2 separate regions of the Homo sapiens genome follow, and region 1 is linked to region 2. The links come from fine-mapping of genetic effects on gene expression. A gene starts in region 2. The other region holds a variant in brackets. All regions are shown on one strand. Distances are between the middles of the regions.

The links. PIP is the estimated chance that this variant, and not a neighbour inherited with it, causes the effect.
Region 1: its variant is fine-mapped to the expression of ADIPOR2 in sigmoid colon (GTEx, PIP above 0.99).

What each region holds. Positions count from the first base shown.
Region 1 is chr12:2,136,333-2,139,241 of GRCh38, reverse strand. The region is part of intron 3 of CACNA1C (calcium voltage-gated channel subunit alpha1 C); the gene reads right to left. The region is part of intron 1 of LOC107984131 (a long non-coding RNA gene); the gene reads right to left. Among named protein-coding and RNA genes, the nearest start is that of CACNA1C, 85 kb to the right of the region's middle. RefSeq lists an enhancer at 1,324-2,119. The variant C/G (reference allele first, on the strand shown) is at 1,411.
Region 2 is chr12:1,689,763-1,692,671 of GRCh38, reverse strand. ADIPOR2 (adiponectin receptor 2) reads right to left here and starts at 1,602. Exons shown (of 8, transcript NM_024551.3): 1 at 1,481-1,602. RefSeq lists silencers at 1,300-1,389, 1,410-1,709 and enhancers at 1,208-1,786, 1,870-1,919, 1,940-2,099.

The DNA of each region.
Region 1 (2,909 bases), 450 kb before region 2:
GATCTGGAGTGAGGCACCTAGAAGCCAAGGGATGCCAGGCGCTGCTGGCAACACTGGAGCCAGGGCAGGAGCACGGAACACACTCCTCAGAGTGCCCAGAGGAACCAATGCTACTAACACCTGGACTTTGAAACTCTGGCCTCTGGAACTGTGAGACAATAAATTTCTATTGTTTTAAGCCACCAAATGCATGGTATTTTCACAGCAGTGCTAGAAAACAAACACACTGAGAGACGCAGATGAGTAAGCAGGAGGCTAAATGTGCTTTGATAGGGGTCATCTAGAATGCTATGGAAACACAGAGGGCAGCACCAAAGCCAGTCATGGAGGAGCAGAGAAAACTTCCTACAAGAAGGGACTCCAAGTCTGGGCCTTGGGGATTGTCTAAGTCCATTTGTGTTGCTATAAAGGAATACCTGAGGCAGGGTTACTTAAAAAGAAAAGAGGCGTATTTGGCTCACGGTTCTGCAGGCCGCACAAGAGGCATGGCTCTAGCATCTGCTTCTGGTGAGGGCCTCAGGCTGCTTCCACTCATGGCAGAAGGGGAAGGGGAGCCCGGCGTGTGGCTGAAAGACCATGTTGGGCTTCACCTCTCTCTGGGATAACCTCTGGAACATTCCTCCGATGGGCAGGAAGCGTGGAAGTGACCCCGGCCTGCTGCTGGTCACTCTCTTACCTGCTCTCTCTGGTCAGTCTAGCAGAAGTGGGACTCGGAGCCACACCCTGGCCTTCGACACCTTCTCCCACAAGGCCCGTCCCTATCAACCGTGCCCAACTGCCAGGGTTCAAGCACCTCCACACTGTGAGCTGCGTACACAGCCCAGCCCTCAAGCATAGCATCCACCACCTGCCACCTGCCTTCCCCCACACAACCAGGATCCATCTGCAAGCACAGGCCACACCAAGGCTTGTGCTCCCCAGCCCTGTGAAGGCTGGCCTGGCCACAGGGACCACAGCACTTCCAGTCAGATCTGATGAAGCCTCGGTGCAGACGTGAGGTCTCCTCCTGGATATCCTGGCCTTCCTTATTCTTGATGCCTGACCTTGTTCCTCAGGACTCAAAGGCACAGAGAAGAGAGGCTGCCCCAGGCCATGTTTCTGACTGTGTGCCCGAGAGCCCAGATAATAAAAGCCCTGGGGTTTTCCCACTATTTCTGCTATGCATTTGAGGAAGGGGTTTGCAAGTCACAGGACAGCACCAAACGAACTACTCAGCAGCTACACTCGCTGTGCCAGAGTTCAGCTAGACCCAGTGAGAAAACAGGGAGTGGCCCGCATGAGCTCCCGGCAGGGGCGCCTGTGTGAGGCGATGTGTCGGCTCCAGGACTGCACACAAAGACAGGGTCCACTGGCCTGGCGCTCCCGGACCCCGGCAGCCCTGCCAGACTCTTGGCAGCAGGCAGGTTGCAG[C/G]CACACCACTCACCACCCATCTTGGAAAGGTCAAGAACTAAATTTGGAACTTGGCTTCTAGTTCTTTTGCATCTCTAAGTTATCTTGAGAGGAGGCTGAGGAAAAAGGTTCACAGAGGAATGTGCCAGAAAAAAAAAAACAGTAAGTATTTTAGAGACAAATATATCTGTCTAGTTTGAATCATAACAGTAATAATGATCACAATAATGCCTCTATGTTTATATGGCACTTTGCATTTTTCCAGAGCATTTTAAAAAATAAACATGGGGTCTCGCCCCATCACCCTGGTGTAATCATAGCTCACTGCTGCCTTGAACTCCTGGGTTGAAGCACTCCTCCCGTCTCAGCCTCCCAAGCAGCTAAAACTACAGGTGCAAGCCACCATGCCCAGCTAATGTGTGTGTATGTGTGTGTATATATATACTTTTTTTTTTGGTAGAGCTGGGCGGAGCATTTCTATCTATATTCTCATTTGCCCTTGCCATAACTCAGTGAGGTAGGAATTATTATCTTTATTTCACAGCCGAGAAACCTAAAACTCAGAGAAGTGAAGTGACAAGGCCGTGCCACCAGGCAGAGGTAGAACTGGAACCAGAGCCCAGGGCTAGGACATGCAGCTCAGCACTCTCTTACTACCCATCCCACATCCTGGTGTTCAGGCCGTAGCTCTTCGATGTTTCCACGTCTCCAGTGGGGCCTAGGGTGCACAGGCAAAACCTGTGGAGCCTCTCGGCACGAGAGGGGGACTGCTCTCACCTGGGCGGGGCGCCGTGGGGTCCCCCACATGTTATGCTCTGAGCCCTGCCAACCACCAGTACTGACTGGGGTCCCATGAAGGCCCCAAGTTCAAATGCAGGCCCAGCAGCTCCCAAGATCTGCTTCCAAGGACTCAGTCCACGAGAAGGGTCCCTCAAGTTTTAAGTTTGTCTCAGAAAGTCAGGCTGATTCTGGGTTCCCTCACCCCAACCAGAGATTCTCATCTATTTAGGAAGAGGCCCGGGGGCCTGTTTGGTTGAGGATCTCAGGTAATATGAATCACTGATCCCTGGGAAAATATGGCCTCAAAGCCAAGTCTACCTCTCAGGTAGTAGCAGATGAAAAGGCCTCCCCTTTGCCTACCCCTTATGCTTTCCAAATGGCATGGCCTGGGGGCTCCATGGCATGCCCCCAGGACCCCTACAGACACCACCCAGCCTGGGGACGTTCACTCCCTCCTTCACTGTTGCTCCTCCCTTGGTCCTCTTGGTAAAGACAGAAGCGCACACACTGCATAAACTCTAGTTGAAGGCCTGATAATTAAGGCATCGTATTCAAAGCAAAATACCCCTCCCATTTATACCTTAGTTGGGGGCCACACAGCATAGCAGTTAAAAGCACAGACTTGGGAGCCACACACCCAGGCTGGAATCCCAGCTCCACTGCTTCATAGCTATGCAAACTTGGGCAAGTTAGTTCATTGCCCTGTGCCCCTTCCTCATCTTTAAAATGGGGTGATTACA
Region 2 (2,909 bases):
AAGGAGCCTAGGGATAGAAAAAAAAAACAAACTCTCTTTTAGGCTCTGGAAATCCTACTCCCATTCCTAGTGTCAAGTGAAAAGAGGAAATCTGCTAAGCAGACCAAAGTCTAGATAGGAACGTATACTGGAGGACAGACAGTTACAATCAGAAGTTAAAAGAAATATGCCTTTCACATTTAATTTGCAATTTTTTCAAATTTCATAATTCACCAACAAGCAGCTGCCACATGTGTGGAAATCTTTACTGATGAAATAATTTTAGTTGCAGATCATCACAATCAACACTCTGACAACAAATTTATCAGAACGGATGAAAACATCTAGGAATTACCTAAGAGTCGTTTAAGGAGACATAAGGGTGGCCTTTGATAAGAGGTCACTTCAAACTTTCAGAACTGACAAGACGTATAGCCTCCCCCCAAAAAATAATGCTATGGGTAGATGGATGCTTTTTTCTGAAGGAATTTTTAGCATTTCATTTGGAAAAGTTCTGTGATCAAATAATGCTAAATGTTATGACAGCTTTCTTGGCGTTTAAAGGGATTCTCTGGGTGAGGGGAAGGGGTGATAAAAAAAAAAAAAGTCTGCTTTTGGAACAGAAATGGGGGACAATAACCAAGGCTCAGAAACCCAGAGTCAAAAAATTAAAAGAACATCTTATTTTAAAAAAAAAGTCAACAACCTGCAATGAAGTCACCGTACCCCCATAAAATCCCAACTGTGCATTTAAATCTTTCTACCAAAATTCACTTTTGGACCATCTTATGAAGTTGTCAAAATTTCAGAGGCAAACGCTTAAATCAAGATCAAAAGCCAGGAGGAAAAAAGAGCTAACAGTTTCCAACCCAAACTCTCTCCGAGCCCCCTAAAAACTGATTTATAACCCTGTCATCGGTAATTTTAGAAGAAGCGAACACTGACGGACGGGGGCTTGGGAAAACAGGACTCCAGGTACCAAGCAGGCTGCCTGACGCGCCACCTGAAAAAGGTGAGGGAACTCTTCCCCACCCCAGTCACTGTGAAAGTAGCGCTGAGAGAGCCCATCCCAAGCCTCCACCAAACAAATTCCTAGAAGTGATAAAAACAGACAAGAGACGAAGAGGGGCGGGCAGATCCTCTCCGCGGGCAGGGAGCTGGAGCAACTGCACCCGAAGGTGAGCAGAGGGCAGCAGGCTCCGACCCTCCGCCGCGAAAGGCGAGGCGAGGGGAACAGCGGGCGCCGGACTCCTCCGACAGCGGTCGCAAGGAGGGCGGCTCCAGGTCCCCACACGGCCGACCCTCAGGCCAAGGCGCGCCGGGCGGCAGGTCAGAGTTAGGAATCAAGTTGCGGGCCGGGCCGAGAGCGCGCTCTCCCGCCCGCGCCAGGGACATTCGCCCCTCAGCTCTCACCTCCCCCCGACCCCAAGCTCTCCCTCTGCGCCCAGGAAACGGCGCCCACACTCCAGAGACCCTCACCCGGAGCCCGTCGCCGCCTCACCGCGTGTCTCGGACTTCTTGGGAGCCACCGCTGAGGGGAGGGGGGAGGAGGGGGGAACGGAGGAGGGAGGGGGCCAAGCCCGGTGTAGCCGCCGCCGCTGCCGCCGCCGCGATGCCGCTTCTGGAATCGCGCTCTCGCCGCCGCGACAGCGACCGCCGCCGCCGCGTCTCCCCGCCCCCACGACCGCACGTCGCCGTGACGCGCATCGCACGAGGCGGTTCGAGCCAATAAGACCACACGCCGTGCGCAGCCGCGCTGTCCTAAACCGGAAGCCGCCCCTCTGACCGCTCTAAAACCTGGGTGCATCGTGGGAGCTGTGGTTCGGCCAGGAACTTAGCGAAAACTATACTGGGTGTTGAGGGCCGGAGGAGCGTGCGCTCCTTAGGCGCTCACACAACTCCTCGGAGTTTTTTCTCCCACCGAAAAAGGAAGCAATTTGGAGCTGAGGAGGAGGGGGCCGCCCCGGCTCGCGGATGCTTTTCGCAGTCTCTATGGATACTGGCTACACACTTTGGGCAAGAGCCAGAATTTGAGGATTTAGGCTGGATCGTGTGTCTCTGCCAAGGGCTGATAGGATGCTGAGCGTCGTCTGTGAAGACTGCGGAAAGAAATCCAAAAGCATTAGCCCAGTTTTGCCCAGAGCAATAGTGTTTGCCTTTTATTACCTTATTAAAGATTATGATTTATGCTCTACCACTTCTATTTTTTTTAAAACCCAGTCACTCTTAAAATACATATAATTCAGAGCGATTTTTAAAATGATGTTAATGTAATGGTATATCAGAACCTACTTAAGCACTAAATACCTGCGTCCATTTACCCAGAATGAGTAAGTAATTTTCCACAAGTCATCTTTACGTTGAGTTCTAACTTCTTAGAAGCCAAGAACAGATTTGGTTACGTACTTATTCTATAAGAAAAGTGAATATAAGAGTTAGTCTGCGTAGAAAAATAGTTCTTTACATTCAGTAGGAGGGGGAATTTATCACATTCTTAAGGCGTAAATGCCTTAACTATCAAAATTCTTGTTATTGACTAAAGGAAATCCATACGATTTAGGGAAAGTCTGTGCCCACGGCTTACTGTCCTTACCTTTGGACCACAGCAAGAGATAACAAAGGGTGCAGGGAAAAGCTGACAGGTCTTGAGGGAGCTGGAGTCGGATATATGACGAAAAAAACAAAAATACAGAAGTCTTCATTATGGAAATGTAAGTTTTAAAAAGTAAAGCTACTAAAATCACAAAGAACATGATTAAGATGGCAATAATACAGAACTAAGGCCCACTCATTTAAGCTTGAAAGAGATAAAACTAGTAGAAATTAAAATTAGGAAATAAATGTTAAAGGAACTAATTTCCTCCAAGGAGTGGTTTACATTGAAAATATAATTTTTTTAAGTTTACATAATTTGTGAAAGACATAATAAT